Linked DNA regions of Homo sapiens: region 2 is reported to be linked to region 1. Evidence: microRNA targets listed by miRTarBase, many of them from high-throughput screens and not tested one by one. Region 1 holds a microRNA gene; the other region holds the end of a gene's coding sequence.

Region 1 (8,259 bases):
CTAGCAGGCAGAGACCGGCAGCAGGGTGGCCTAGAGGAAAGCACTGTGGGTTTGCAGGGAATGGACATAGGGTCTTGTCTAGGATCTCTCTCTTGCCACTTCTGTGGCTCTAGAAGAGAAAGTCACCGAGGAACCTGGACCTCAGATTCCCACCTTGTTTACCTCTGGAGGTGGTATTGATAAATACAGCTCCTCCCAGGGCAAAGAACAGGCCTTTTGATTTTCTGCAGCTCCAGTTTCTAACACACTGTCTGAATCCCAGAAGGCGCTCACCATTTTCTGGCTTGCTGAATGAATTTGGAGCTGCTGATGGGGTCATAGTTACTACTTTTGTTTGAAGCCTCCTTGGCCTGCAAGCTGAGGAGAGTGGGTCCCTGGGCCTTCTCCAGAAGGTCATTTGCTAGCCTACCCTGCACCTAGTGACGTTACTTTGCACACAGCTGGAAGCAGCGTGAGCCTGGATGTCAAGAAGGAAGAAGGTAGCCTGACCACTCTTTTGTGTGTTATAGCTGCTACCATGAGCCCCACAGGGCTAGGTTGGGCACTTGTCACTAGTGCTCCCCAGCAGGGGACCTAGTTCATGCAGTGCTTAGCTCTTGGAGAAAAGGTGGTAGGATTTGCGCCTGATCCCACATGACTTAGTATAGCATGGGCCATCGTGCCAGGTACCAATCCGGACTTACTCCATTGCCCCTTTGCCCCCTTGGACACACACACTTTTAAACAATGTGTGCACCCTAACGAACCATAGTTCCTGAGAGAAGTGCAAGGTTACCTTTCGGAGATGCCACAGGTGGAGCCTTTTCTCTGGCTCATCCAGTATCTCAGAAGTTCTGCTTTTTTATAGCCTTTTCTCGAATTATTTCAGGGTTGTTATTATTAACCATTTTTATTGTCATTAGTTTAAAGTCAGCCACAACACCCACCCTTTGAGGGTCTGCCCCGCTCACTTCTTCCCTTGCCTCATTCCTTGTTCTCCACTTTCCCCTTCATATAACCTTAACAGTTCGGTGAAGAGTTTATTTCCAAATGTCCACGCTACCTTCAGTGCCTCCATTTTTACTCCCTCCCCTTCTTCTCTATTATTTCCAAACCTCAGATTGTCCCCTCACCAAGATTTTCTGACGGTCTCATCTTTTTTTATTTCTGAAGTACCCCATGACAACCTTTTCCCCTGCAACCACCCCTTCTCTCTGCCCTCCTCCTCTCAAGATGATTTTTGTGTATTTTCTACTTCCGTGGCAGGCACCCTGTGATGTCCTCTTCTTTTTGCCAGTGCTCCCTCCCCTATGCTGGGTGGAGTATCCAATCAAATATCTAATACATAATATTTTCATCATATATTCTGATCGTATATTTCAGTCCCCCCCAAACTTATTTAAGTGTCTCTTGAATTTTCACACATCCTATGGTGCTCCCTTCCCCGGCCCACTCCCCAAGACAGGTCACATAAGGTTTTTTACATTTTCATGGCACTTCAGGCTCGTTCTCTATCCCAGCATTTACTGCACTGCCAGTTTACCTATTTTTCTTTCCCACATAATCTAGAACATTCTTTGGACCTGGAGGATGTGTACTAGGGAGTATCCCTAGAATCTAGACTGGTGCCTCACATAACAGGTGGTCAGAAAATGCGCAAGATGTACTATTCGTTAGGCTTTTATTTTTCTCTATGTTCTGCAGTAACTAAGGAAAATCATGGTAAATGTCAATCTTCACACAACAGCAGACACAAAGGGTTTCAGAAACGTCAGATATGAAGAAATCCTCCATCCTTCTTCAACATTTTACTGGGTATTTCAACTTCAAAAGAACAGCTTATTTCTATAAGTGCTGTACAAGATCATAGATTATGATGGAACGACTTCATTTTAGAACGTTAGCAAAACTGTTATACTAAATGTCAATGACAGGAAACAAAGAAAAAAATTTGTTCAATTATATTTTTAAACATATTGTTATTCTCAACAAACGGAATTTTAAAACGAATACAATTTTCCATTATCAAAAGCAAACACTCTATTTCGCAGTTGAACAATGATCACTGATCACAAATATCAAATACAGTGTCCCCCGCCCCCAATCGACATCATTTTCAACTTAGGACCCTGGCATCTACTCCTTGGGGTACCTGTGACTCTCTTTTACACCCCCAAGGGTCTGCCTCAGATCTACTTAAGGGGCGGAATAACCCCTAGCACCTGAATTGAGGATAGCCTCAACCTCTGCATCATCGTCCGAATCCCAGTCATAATTACAAGGCCAGTCTTTAGAGCATCGGTTACGAACCCTTGCCACAAAATGCATGACTTTCAGTTTGCTCGATTCCACGTGTGCTCGGGGCCCCCAGAAGAACTCATACTCCACCGGACTGCTACGGGGCACCGGTTTATAAATCAGGTACCCTCTGCGCACAAACTCTTCTGTGACGATCTTCTTCGGATCTCCAAAGATGCTGTGCTGACGTCCAGGCTGCATTCCTAACTTCCCCAGCACTTTCCAGACCAGAGCTTCCTTGGCGCTGTTGCCCATGATGAAGATGAGCGCTAATATAGACATCAGGAGACTTTTCTTGGTGCCCTGAAAATTGCTCCGGGGCACTGAAGGCTTTTGTGCTTGGGCAGTGCTCGAGGCTTCTTCAGGGGTGGTAGAGGCCTCCTCTGGAGTGCTCGGGTCTTCCTCGGGGCCGCTCAGGTCGTCTTCGGGGGTGCTCGCTACCACAGAGGCGGCCATAGGGGTCTCGGAGGCCTCTGAGGCCTGGATTTTGCGATTGTTGCGGTTCTCTTCTGCGGCTCTCGCATTACGGCGGCGCCGACTCTTTCGTCCCCGAGGCATGTCTCCTGCTAGAGGCTCAAAGCTTACAGCAGTCCTAGGGAAGGATGCTTGTAGCCTCTTCAGGAAGCAACAGCTTTATACCGTAAGAAGCTGCTGCCGCTGAAGCTACCAATGTCAATAGAGTCTTTGTAGCAATAAACAAGCCGTTCTCAGCTACAAAGGGTAGTTCCCACGCCAGCTGACTTGCGCGAGCAGCCGCCGCCAGCACTTGCCGCAGCTGCAAGCCCGCGAGAAAGCTCAGCAAAATTGGCCCCGCCTCTCCTGCCACGCACACTCCTAGCACCAAAGAGGAAGTAGGCTGGTCCTCCACAGGGACTTCCGCTAGCAGATAGGAAAAGGGGCAGGCAGCGACAGGGGTGGGACAAGGGCAGAAATGACAGCTAGAGATTGGAGGGGCCTGGAGTTTGCAGAAGAGAAAAAAATAGCTTAAAGTTTCTGTATTTTCAGCCTACTACAAACATTCCAAGATTGGCTCGACGGTCTAGGGAAGGAGTGCGTCGGCTCCATTCCCACTGACGACGGGCTGTGTGTGTGTTGGGGGTTGGGAGGCCAGGGGTGGCGGGAGGGTGTATTCTTGGAAGGAGTCAGCTGTCTCCAGCCTTCCTTTCCTGTCTTGGCTTACACAGCGCGTTCATTCACTCGCCCTGTTTTCAGAAGGCATTTGTGTGTATACTAATCAATTTGTGGTCCCATGTAGGACCCGGATAATATTGTTATGGCAGATGTGCTGGATGATGTGAGGAGATGGGACTGCAGAAACAAGCAGGGTGAAAGAGGTGCAGAGCCTTTAAAATGTGGTAGATATATGCACGATATATATACTGCCCTGCTTTTATACATACATACATACATACCTATATCGTGCATATATCTACCACATTATGTTTATATACAGTGCATATATCTACCACACATATATGTATGTATGTATGTATGAAAGCAGGGCAGTGACAGGATCAGAGGAATTGCATTTGTGCAGCCTCTCAGAAAAGCAAACTGTTTCCTGGCAGACCACATAGGAAGCAATTGGAATAAGAAGCACTGGGAACTAAAGTATGCCTTAAGGCTGTTGCCATGGGGATGGAGAGGCAGAAAGACATTTTAAAGGTGACCGTTGAAGGGCTTTGCAGACAGAATGGATGAAGTGGGGAATGTGGAGGGGATGATGGAGTTCAGATTGGCTCCAAGGTTTCTAGGCTCCAGTCTTCCTGGACTCCTGATTTATTTTGCTTCTTTCAGAGCATACTCTGAACTTTATCCACTGCTTGCTTTTGCTCACTGTTTGCTCTGCCTGACCTGTCTTCTCAGCCTTCTCCAACTATCTAAATTCCATTTGACTGCTCACAGACCTGTTTCTCCCTGAAGCTTGTCTTGATCTGCCCAAAAGGGTAATGAGTCCATTTTTACTCCATTGAGGAAAGCCCTATAACTAGCACTCTATATCTTTCTTATGTCATTCAAGGTATTAGTTTAAGCAAGTCACTTCTCTCTAAGCCTGTTTTCCCATCTATAAAGTGGGGCTAAAGTACAGCCCTCATAGGGTTGTGAGAATTAAATGAGATAAAAAATGAAAAGCATTTATTACATGGTAAGCACAGATTTTGCCTCTCAAGGTTTTCCAAGCGGTGTGTGAGTGTGGCATTTAATAAATGCGTGCTGAAGGAATTCATGATGGAAAAGATTTTATAGGTGTTCTTAACTGAACTCTTAAGAAACAAATGAATACTTTATGCCTGTCTTGCTGAAATTTTCTTTATAATTAGAGCCCACCGAGACCTCCTGTTGGGTAAGTTAGCAATAAATCAATTTGGTCAAGCAAAGAAAGCACCTCTCCAGGACACAGAGCACTCTTGAGCCAGCCCTCCGTTTGGGATAACCTTTGCACGCGTTCTGGGACATGACCTACTCAAAACAGTAGTCTGGCTCCATCTGCTGTCCCACATTCTGAGAATTCTCGCAGTTTCTGGTCCATTGATAATTGCTCTGAATTGTTTTTCAGTACAGGTATGAACTTATTTTACTGTTTCCAGGAATTTGGGTCTTGCATGGAAGTCTATAGCATGTACAATCCTACCCTCATGAAACAAAAATGGGAGGATTACTTTTGCAGTTTATTTGCTTGTTTTTAGCATGAATTTTTTTTTACTGCGACTTAATCTCAAACGTAGGGCAAAGAAGAGAGATTAATATTATAAACACCAATAGCTAGCTGTATAAAATTTAAATATTAGGCCCTACTTACTGTTTATCTTTTATATATTGGATATGGCAAAACCCTCCTATTACGTCTTCCCTGACCCACTCTGCTCTCTCCTTCCCCACTGTGCTCCTCTATAATGAAGTCAGCAATTATGCCCATGGAGACTTGTATATATTTGCTACCTACTTCTGTGTCTGTACACAATATAGAATCTCTTCCTTTATTTAAAGCACGTCTTCATAATGTATACATTGATCAACACTTTGGTTTTCCAGCTCAACTTTATATTTTTTATGTTTACCCATGTAAATACATGGAACTCTAGTTCATTTATTTTAATTTTGTACATTTCATCATTTTCAATTTATCCTGTTCCTAATGATCCACGCCTATGCAGTTCCCATTTTTCCAAAACAAAATAATACTCTTATTAATATTTGTGCGCATGTTCCCTATGAACATGTGCATGCATTTCTCTAGGATCAACATCAACGAGTAGGGTTGCTGATGTGTTGGCATGTATATGTTTAGATAGAACACATGGCTTTCCACTTTGTTTCATTTATAAAAATCAAACCATTCCATATTGAATTTCCAGGCAAACCTTTTTCCTAATTAATAATGAAATCTCCTCAATTTATACCTCTAATTCTTTCATTCTAGTGGCTGAATGTTATTCCTTGCAATGGATTTACCATAATCTCTTCAAGTGTCTGCCTGTTGGCTGGGCGTACTGTATTTCCAACTTATTTAATTTTCTTTTTCTATTATTATTATACTTTAAGTTCTAGGGTACATGTGCACAACGTGCAACTTTGTTACATAGGTATACATGTGCCATGTTGATTTGCTGCACCCATTAACTCGTCATTTACATTGGGTATTTCTCCTAATGCTATCCCTCCCCCTACCCTCCACCCCACGACAGGCCCCAGGGTGTGATGTTCCCCTCCCTGTGTCCAAGTGTTCTCATTGTTCAATTCCCACCTATGAGGGAGAACATACAGTGTTTGGTTTTCTGTCCTTGTGATAGTTTGCTCAGAATGTTGGTTTCTAGCTTCATCCATGTCCCTACAAACGACATGAAATCATCCTTTTTTATGGCTGTATAGTATTCCATGGTGTATATGTGTCACATTTTCTTAACCCAGTCTATCATTGATAGACAGTTGGGTTGGTTCCAAGTCCTTGCTATTGTGAACAGTGCCACAATAAACATATGTGTGCATGTGTCTTTATAGTAGAATGATTTATAATCCTTTGGGTATACACCCAGTAATGGGATCACTGGGTCAAATGGTATTTCTAGTTCTAGATCCTTGAGGAATTGCCACACTGTCTTCCACAATGGTTGAACTAATTTACACTCCCACCAGCAGTGTAAAAGCTTTCTTATTTCTCCACATCCTCTCCAGCATCTGTTGTTTCCTGACTTTTTAATGATTGCCATTCTAACTGGTGTGAGATGGTATCTCATTGTGGTTTTGATTTGCATTTCTCTGATAACCAGTGATGATGAGCATTTTTTCATGTGTCTGTTGGCTGCATAAATGTCTTCTTTTGAGAAGTGTCTGTTCATATCCCTTGCCCACTTTTTGATGGGGTTGTTTGTTTTGTTGAAAATTTGTTTAAGTTCTTTGTAGATTCTTGATATTAGCCCTTTGTCAGATGGGTAGATAGTAAAAATTTTCTCCCATTCTGTAGGTTGCCTGTTCACTCTGATGGTAGTTTGTTTTGCTGTGCATAAGATCTTTAGTTTAATTAGATCCATTTGTCTATTTTGGCTTTTGTTGCCATTGCTTTTGATGTTTTAGTCATGAAGTCCTTGCCCATGCCTATGTCCTGAATGGTAATGCCTAGGTTTTCTTCTAGGATTTTTATGGTTTCAGGTCTAACATTTAAGTCTTTCACCCATCTTGAATTAATTTTTGTATAAGGTGTAATGAAGGGATCCAGTTTCAGCTTTCTACATATGGCTAGCCAGTTTTCCCAGCACCATATATTAAATAGGGAATGCTTTCCCCATTACTTGTTTTTGTCAGGTTTGTCAAAGATCAGATGGTTGTAGATTTGTGGTATTATTTCTGAGGGCTCTGTTCTGTTCCACTGGACTGTATCTCTGTTTTGGTACCAGTACCATGCTGTTTTGGTTACTGTAGCCTTGTACTATAAAGTCAGGTAGCATGATGCCTCCAGCTTTGTTCTTTTTGCTTAGGATTGTCTTGGCAATGTGGGGTCTTTTTTGGTTCCATATGAACTTTAAAGTAGTTTTTTCCAATTCTGTGAAGAAAGTCATTGGTAGCTTGATGGGGATGGCACTGAATCTATAAATTACCTTGGGCAGTATGGCCATTTTCACGATATTGATTCTTCCTACCCATGAGCATGGAATGTTCTTCCATTTGTTTGTATCCTCTTTTATTTCATTGAGCAGTGGTTTACAGTTCTCCTTGAAGAGGTCCTTCACTTCCCTTGTAAGTTGGATTTCTAGGTATTTTATTCTCTTTGTAGCAATTGTGAATGGGAGTTCACTCATAATTTGGCTCTCTGTTTGTCTGTTGTTGGTGTATAGAAATGCTTGTGATTGTTGCAAATTGATTTTGTAACCTGAGACTATGCTGAAGTTGTTTATCAGCTTAAGGAGATTTTGGGCCGAGACAATGGGGTTTTCTAAATATACAATCATGTCATCTGCAAACAGGGACAATTTGACTTCCTCTTTTCCTAAGGGAATACTCTTTATTTCTTTCTCTTGCCTGATTGCCCTGGCCAGAACTTCCAATACTATGTTGAGTAGGAGTGGTGAGAGGGGGCATCCTTGTCTTGTGCCGGTTTTCAGAGGGGATGCTTCCAGTTTTTGCCCATTCAGTATGATATTGGCTATGGGTTTGTCATAAATAGCCTTTATTATTTTGGGACATGTTCCATTGATACCTAGTTTATTGAGAGTTTTTAGCATGAAGGGCTGTTGAATTTTGTCGAAGGCCTTTTCTGCATCTATTGAGATAATCATGTGTTTTTTTGTCATTGGTTCTGTTTATGTGATGGATTATGTTTATTGATTTGTGTATGTTGAACCAGCCTTGCATCCCAGGGATGAAGCCAACTTGATCATGGTGGCTAAGCTTTTTGATGTGCTGCTGGATTCGGTTTGCCAGTATTTTATTGAGGATTTTTGCATCAATGTTCATCAGGGATATTGGTCTAAATTCTCTTTTTTTGTT
Region 2 (8,259 bases), not on the chromosome of region 1:
TCAATTTAAGAGGAATGAATATCATGTGAAAATGTGGTATAACTAGTTATGTTGGCTATTAATGGCTAAAAATATCACACAAAACAATTTCCAGTGGCATCAGAGCTAGTTGTCACCATCATAACCTCCCTTCCTTTTGAGTTGGCAGCCATAAGCTATGAGCCCACAGTAATCCTTCCCTAGTAACATTAATTCACAAGTCAACAGAAGTTCTCCCGAGTTCTCTATCCCCTGCCCCTCACCCTAGCAATTACTGTTAATACCTTAATGAAGAAAGGTTTACCATTTTGAAAACGTTGTTAACACTTTGTTTGGATAATATGTAACTTAATAATTGTAAGCTGATATAAGCTCTGTCCCTCTCCTTTCCTTTTTGCCATTGCCAATCTCTCTGAACTTTGTCCATTCATGTTAATATCTGCAATTCTATTTCCACTGGCTTTTAAGAACTAAGAAGGAGCTGGATGCTATGCTTCTGTGTTTTATTTTTCAATGAACTATACATTTTTAGTTCTGCTAGGCTGTATAGTTATTTGTGTGTAATAGACTATTCCATAGCAATATGCAGTGGAAAATTCCTTTTGACAAGCCATAGCAAGCTTAATTGAGTCATGACATATACCATTAAACAGCTTCCAGTGGGGCAAACATCCTCTTCCTAAGGTAGCATATGCTTTCCCTGGGTTTCAACATGACAATATGTCCTCACACGACTAAGGAAATGACTCTTTTCATTTGTGAAAAGTTTCAGAAAGGTATGGAGTTAATCTTTGAGTTAACAAATTAAACTTTAAAGAGACATAAGCTCTACCACACTTTCTTCCTCCTTAGATTTAGTATAACCCATTTTTTAAAAAGCTTCGCACTGAATTACAGATCAATTTTAAAATGTCTTCTTTATTGTTTAGTCATTCCCTAATGAGAATCCCACATCTATTATTTTAAAATTTTTATTTTATTTTTATTATCACACAATAACATTAATAGAAACTATTCTGTCAAGATAGTATTTCTGGTTCTCTCCCATTGACTTTGCCTGAAGCCACTCCAAATTCTGACATTACTCTTAATGTTTTCAGGACAGATGGTATTAGAGCTTTCAGCAAAAGTAGTAGATTATCAGCATATATTAGTTAACTTGTGAATCTCCATCTGAATATTCTTCAGATACCCATGGGATCTGTGTGATTTTCTAGCTTCAATGTCAGCCTGAAGAGTAACATCAGAAATGGGCATCATCCTTACTTCCCTCCCCAGTGCAGCAATAAGGCAGGGAAAGGGAGATTGTAAACCATTGATTTAAACCATATAAATGGATTGAAAATAAATTGTGCTATCTGCTTTATTTGTCCCCAAAGCCAAATTTACCTAACACATAATACAAGTAGTCTCATTCAATTGCATCAAAGGACTTTTTGGCATCTAATAAAATTATTGCTATTGGTTCTAATTTTCTCTTTGTATTCCAGATGAGTTGCATTCATCTATGCAGATTATCTGATGCTTATCTCCCAGGCATAAAGGCTTCTTGGATAAGGGTCTATTAGATTTGTGATTATTTGGTCACATAGCCAGGTGTGCAGGTAGCTATTATTTTCTACCTACCCACATTGTATGAAAGAATATTTTTCACAATACTGCTAAGGAAGTAATATGAAATCTTGAGTATAAGGTTATAGGAATATACATAATAAGATAAAGAACTGCAGGACACCTTGATTTCCAACCACAGATAATATCTGATGCTTAAAAAAATTCAGTACAAACCATTTAAATGCATTACATTTATTCAGTCTATTTCTGAAAGTAGTGGCTGTTCAGCGTGTGGACGGCAGGGAGAAGTTAATGTGTTGGTAAGCAACCTAAATTTTTATAAAGCTATTTTGAAAGTAACTCAGTGTCACAGAAAGTAATATCAATTACTCTTTGCTTTACAATTGACACTGCAAGTCTGCTCCAAATTTCCATTCTTCAGCTCAGCATCTGCAAAGAAAAGGAAGGCAGAGAATACCCTCCACTGGAGATTTCTGGGTATCAAAATCACAAGACACACTTCTTTACAATATGGCCTGAAACAGTTCAAAGGTTGTTGTTTTTTTCCCAAGTATTGATTAATCCTTTCATCCCCTGGGAATAGGGTATGACACAAAAGGAGGAAACTGAACAATGGAAAATAGGGGTAAAGTCAGTTAATAATCTTGAGGGTTCAAACAACCTACACTCTGTGAGACAGCATAGTGTTGGGAAAAGGGCCTGGACCTCGGAGCCAGTTTTGATCGCGGCTCTACCCTTTAACTATGAAATATTAAGTAAAATGATTTATAATTAGCCAAAGAGAAGGTGAGGGAAAACATGCATCCTTTTTTACAACTAATAATATATGAGGCCGAGCACAATGGCTCACACCTGTAATCCCAATACTTTGGGAGGCTGAAGTGGGAGGATCACTTGAGGCCAGGGGTTTGAAACCAGCCTGGTGAGGTCACATCTCTACAATAATAATAATAATAATAATTTAAAAATTAGCCAGGCATGGTATTGTGGGCCTGTAGTCCAGGCTACTTAGGAGGCTGAGGCGAAAAGATAACTTGAACCCAGGAAGTCGAGGCTGCAGTGAGCCATGATGACACCACTGCACTCTAGCTGGGTTGGGGACAGTGGGAGGAACTAAATTCCATTTGATTCAAAGTGAAAAAAAAAGGGTTGAATGAAAATGAAACTTTGCTGGCTTTGCAGGACTGGCCTGGCACCTGACCAGGAAAGGTTAAAAAAGGTCAAACAAGGCTCCCACTGTGTGGCTAGGAAGAGGTTTCTGGAGAAATGGATTTGGAGGATTTATCTGGTAATTCTCAATCATTCAGCTGTGGCCAAACTGAAAGCCTGTGAGCTGTACCCCTGACACCCAGAGTGTGGAAGCCCCAGAGGCCGAAGTCCCTTGGAACATTCACGTTCTCCCCTGGGATGGGGATGAGGAGGCCATGCAGAAAGACATGTTCTGAGAAACCAGTGATCTAAGAAAATAACATGTTACAAGACCATGTTTTTTCTAGTTTTAGAACATTTTATATAACTCATAAGTGTTTGTATAAAAATTCACGCAAAGTTGCTAGAGAGCATACAATTTCCAAAAATGTCCTGGGTTTTTGTTATTTTCAGTTTTCTAAGGATGCACTCCAATCAATGGAAAAATGCAGACATTATGCAAGATTTCATTATCTTTGGTAAAAGTATTCTCATTATTTTGTCTCTTCACAGTATTAACTCTGATATCCACTTTGTGCAGGGTCTGCTATTACTAGGATGTCATAAAAATGTTAAAGCTGGATCTACAAGAGGCAAGTATTTCCAAACAGCAGTAATAGCTCCTTGGCCCCCACCCCCACTTCATATATCTATACAGTCTGTCTATACATTGGCTGAACCCTTTACTTACCAGTGTAGCCTTGGCAAACTATAAACAGAACTGAGCTTTGGTTTTCTCATTCACAAAAGGGGGTTATAATACTTATTCCTGAGTTTGTTTTAAGCATCAATAAAGACAACATACACAGTGGGTGTGGTGGCTCACGCCTGTAATCCCAGCACTTTGGGAGGCTGAGGCAGGTGGATGACAAGGTCAGGAGTTCAAGATCAACCTGGCCAAGATGGTGGAACCCCATCTTTACTAAAAATACAAAAAAAATTAGCCAAGCATGGTGGCGGGTGCCTGTGATCTCAGTTACTTGGGAGGCTGAGGCAGAAAACTGCTTGAACCCGGGAGGCAGAGGTTGCAGTGAGCTGAGATCATGCCACTGCACGCCATCCAGCCTGGGCGACAGAGCAAGACTCTGTCTCAAAAAAAAAAAAAAAAAAAAAAAAAGACAACATATATAAACAATTTATAGAATATTCAATGCTCAATATTACCTATTTCATTATAATTATGGTTTATCTTCTCATTAAAAAATAATTTCAGCTTTTTAGATTCAGGGGATACATGAACAGGTGTGTTACATGGGTATACTGGATGATGCTGAGGTTTGGGGTACAGACGATCCCGTCACCCAGGTAGTGAGTGCAGTACCCAATAGGTAGTTTTTCAGCCTACATCCCCCTCCTCCCCTCCCCACTCTAGTAGTCACCAGTGTCTATTGTTCCTTTATGTCCATGTGTACTCGATATTTAGCTCCCATTTGTAAGTGAGAATATGTATTTAGTTTTCTGTTCCTGAATTTGCTTAGGATAAAAGCATCCAGCTGCATCCATGTTGTTGCAAAAGACATTATTTCATTCTTTTTTATCACTGTGTAATATTACACGAGGTATATGTACCACATTTCCTTTATTCAATCAACTGCTGATGGGCGGTTAGGTTGATTCCGTATCTTTACTATTGTAAATATTACTGTGATGAACACACAAGCGTTTATGTCTTTTTTTGTAGGACAATTTATTTTCCTGTGGGTATATACCCACTAATGGGATTGCTAGCTCAAATGGCAATTCTGTTATAAAGTTCTTTGAGAAATCTCCAAACTGCTTTCCATAGAGGCTGAAGTAATTTACATTTCCACCAACAGTTCATAAGCAGTTCCTTTTCTCCACAGCCTCATCAGCGTCTGTTATTTTTTATTTTATTGACTTTTTAATAATAGCCATTCTGACTGGTGTAAAATATTATCTCAGTGTGGTTTTGATTTGCATTTCTCTGATGATTAGTGATGAAGAGCACTTTTTCATATGTTTGTTGGCCATGTGAATGTCTTCTTTTGAGAAATGTCTGTTCATGTCCTTTGCTCAGTTTTTAATAGGGTTATTTGTTTTTTGCTTGCTGATTTAAGTTCCTTATAGATTCTGGATATTAGACCTTTGGCAGATGCATAATTTGCAAATATTTCTCCCATCCTGTAAGTTGTCTGCTACTCTGTTGATAGTTTAGTTTGCTGTGCAGAAGCTCTTCAGTTTAATTAGGTCCCGCTTGTCAATTTCTGCTTTTGGGGCAATTGCTTTTAATAAAATTATATATATATATATATATACACACACACACACACACACACACACACACGTGCATCCATTTTTCAGTAATCATAGGAAAGTAAATTCAATAGCATACCAAGTATTCAGATTAAGCTTCATCGCATTATACTGGGAAAATACCGACATTTAACAAAGTACAGTGTGCAGATTTACTCTGTGATTAACCTACATAAAAGAAACCTATTTTTAAAACCTATAGTGTCTGAAGATAAAAAAAACAAACTAATAATGATAACTTAAAAAAGAAAACATCTTTTCCACCATCATTATTCTTCTGTATTTACCCATATACTTGATTTGGTCCAACAGTTCTAGCGTTACTTTATTTTTATTTAATTACTATTATTATTATTTTTTTGCTACGGGGTTTCACTCTTGTCGCCCAGGCTGGAGTGCAATGGCGAGATCTTGGCTAACTGCAACCTCTGCCTCCTGGGTTCAAGTGATTCTCCTGCCTCAGCCTCCTAAGTAGCTGGGATTGCTGGTGCCAGCCACCATGCCTGTCTAATTTTTTTGCATTTTTAGTAGAGTCGGGGTTTTACCATGTTGGGCAGGCTAGTCTCGAACTTCTGACCTCAGGAGATGCCCCCTGCCTCGGCCTGACAAAGTGCTGGGATTACAGGCATAAGCCACCGTGCCTGGACTTTAGCTTTACTTTAAACATATCAATTGGACATAAAGGAAAACAAATGATTAACAGACTGAAGGTACAGAAAAAAAAATTCTTCCTAAGACTTCCTGATGATATAAACCGGGTTACATATGCTTGCAAAACAAAAAATATTAATAAGCAAATAGTCTCTAGTTTAAAGGCACAGAACATAATGAACAATTCAAAAGTATTCAGCTTTAGCAGAATTTTGTATTTCTATAATCAGATAAAGTTGTTTTTTTTTAAAGGCTATTTTCCAAAGAGATGCTATTTTTTGAGATGTGCTGCATAATTTTTCTTAATAGTTGGAAAAATATGTTTGTACTCTAAGTGAAGTAATTTCTGGAGAAAAAGTGTGATGCTGACTGAAGCTAAAACCCTAAGTACATAAGAAGAAATGTATACAGTATTCCCAGGATTTATGTAAACATGGAGAGCCACTTAGTAAATGGCACTGGGTTCTGGTAATCACACAGTCCACTCTCATTAGGCATCTCCCTCTTGTGCATTAATATGTGGCATCATATTCTCAGAGAACATTTTATAACAAAGTGAAATAAAAAGCCCCTCCAGATTGTGAATGTAAGATAATCAGATTCTGTAGTGCTCATTATGACTGCAATTATGTAACAAAACTCTCCAAATATAGTTCAGTGATTGCAGTTATTAATCATTCCGGTTTTGTCTCAAGTACTTGCTTTATAGCCTGCTGGATAGACTCCATAATTCTATAAGCTGAATGTCGAAAGTCAAACATGTGCATGTGAATCTGCTGTTCTAAAGGCCTTTCAATATAATTTACCCTTTCAATTTGTATTTGTGAATGCAAAAAAAGTGGGGGAAATAAAGCTGGTGTCAGTAGAGTCACTGACCTTTGCAGTAAACATAATATAGTCTTTAACAGAAAACAACATTGCAAATAAAAAAACTATTTTGCCAGAACTAGAAATAGTGCTGCTTAAAAAGTTAGTCTCAGAATACCAATCAGTTCTGAGACAATCAGTTACAAAAGTTGGGGGGAAAAAAAAACCTTGAACAAATTTGTACATTTGATAAGCGGGAAAATGGTCGGAGCGCTGGAAAATGTGAATTTTTGAAGGTTCAAAGCACTATCATAGAAAGAATACAGAACTAAACACGTTATGCATAAAACCACATATTCTAATTAATTTAACTATAAAATGCCAAGCAAAGACAGCAGATTTATAATATAGAACAAACACCATCTGCACCACCTTAAATCATTGTTACAGATATATTTCTAGGAAAAAAATACACCTGAACAATTCTCAAGCCTAGATTCTAAGATGCTAAAGTATTAACTAAATAGGATTCCAAACAGACCCAGAGAAAGTTACTGCATAATTATTTAAATATTAACATGTACTGAGTTCAGAAATATAAATATAATAACACATAAACACAGTTTACAAATTCATGTCACCATTTTCCTGTGCTCCATGATTTCTTCAATTTGGCTACATACATTGGGCCCCAGGCTTTGCCCTTATCTGGAATCACTAAGAGCCCACATTCCTGGCCAGTGGGAGCAAATGTGAAGTCGTGGGAGCAAGTCCTTGCTATTCCTTTAATGTCCATAGGCATGATGTTACCGTGGGAGTTTAAAATTTCACTGATCACATCTTGATTTTCTGCCTTGGAAAGCGTGCATGTAGAGTATACAAGTATCCCTCCAGGACGTAAGGCCTTAATTGCAGACCTGTGTGCAATCAGAAAAATGCAAAAGATTAGTTAAGTATATTAAAAAGAAACCAGGGGGTCTGACAGCAAAGATTACGTACTTAAAACTAACCTTACTCTGACTTAGACTGCAATTACTTTGGATGTTTTCTAGTCTTTTTTTTTTTTTTGAGACAGAGTCTAACTTTGTCACCCAGGCTGGAGTGCAGTGATGCCATCTCGGCTCACTGCGATGACTGCCTCCCAGGTTCAAGTAATTCTCCTGCCTCAGCCTCCCAAGTAGCTGGGATTACAGGCGGCCTCCACCATGCCCAGCTAATTTTTGTATTTTTAGTAGAGACGGGGTTTCACCAAGTTGGTCAGGCTGGTCTTGAACTCCTGATCTCAAGTGATCGCCTGCTTTAGCCTCCCAAAGTGTTGGGATTACAGGCGTGAGCCACTGTGCCCAATCTCTGATCTTACACCTATTTCTTTCTAACTTATCCTTGAAGACTTGGAAAATGATAATCAGACCAATCAACATGGAAAAGATAGAGTAAGTTAGACTGGTTGATTGCTATTCAAAAAGTAGGAAAATAGGGGTAGAGAACAGAATAATGAGTTTGTCTTTAAATCGATGGGAGTAAAAATAAAAACAAAGCATACATATGAAAGCATACATAAGAAGTCATTGATTCCATACTTCCAATATTGCAATTTGGGCAACCAGGTAAAAAGTTGGAAGGTTTTTATCTAAGAAAATTGAATAAACTATTTGTGAAGACTTCTAAGGCAGCCACTATGGGTTTTAGACCCCAAATCAAAGATCTCTGCATTCTACCATGAAGAGAGCCTCCAGAGTAACAGTCAGCTCTTCAGAAAGTTGTATCACCAGATAAAAGGTCTCG

The links. The annotated mature microRNA hsa-miR-4536-3p reads UCGUGCAUAUAUCUACCACAU and lies in region 1 at 3,628-3,648, opposite strand. An mRNA with a match to its seed (bases 2 to 7 or 8) in the 3' UTR can be bound and repressed. Matches are read on the target gene's strand: a 7mer-m8 pairs with bases 2 to 8, a 7mer-A1 pairs with bases 2 to 7 and ends in A, and an 8mer does both.
Region 2: miRTarBase lists NSUN3 as a target of hsa-miR-4536-3p. Seed matches in the 3' UTR shown: 7mer-m8 at 5,047-5,053.

Annotation. Positions count from the first base shown.
Region 1 is chrX:55,446,951-55,455,209 of GRCh38, reverse strand. It overlaps MIR4536-2 (microRNA 4536-2), which reads right to left and starts at 3,715; the gene lies at 3,628-3,715. MAGEH1 (MAGE family member H1) reads right to left here and starts at 3,083. Exons shown (of 1, transcript NM_014061.5): 1 at 1,644-3,083. The coding sequence starts at 2,835. The coding sequence ends at 2,176. It overlaps MIR4536-1 (microRNA 4536-1), which reads left to right and starts at 3,628; the gene lies at 3,628-3,715. RefSeq lists enhancers at 2,621-2,670, 2,821-2,870.
Region 2 is chr3:94,125,343-94,133,601 of GRCh38, reverse strand. NSUN3 (NOP2/Sun RNA methyltransferase 3) reads right to left here. Exons shown (of 6, transcript NM_022072.5): 6 at 1,770-7,391. The coding sequence ends at 7,112. Among named protein-coding and RNA genes, the nearest start is that of NSUN3, 66 kb to the right of the region's middle. RefSeq lists an enhancer at 2,744-2,833.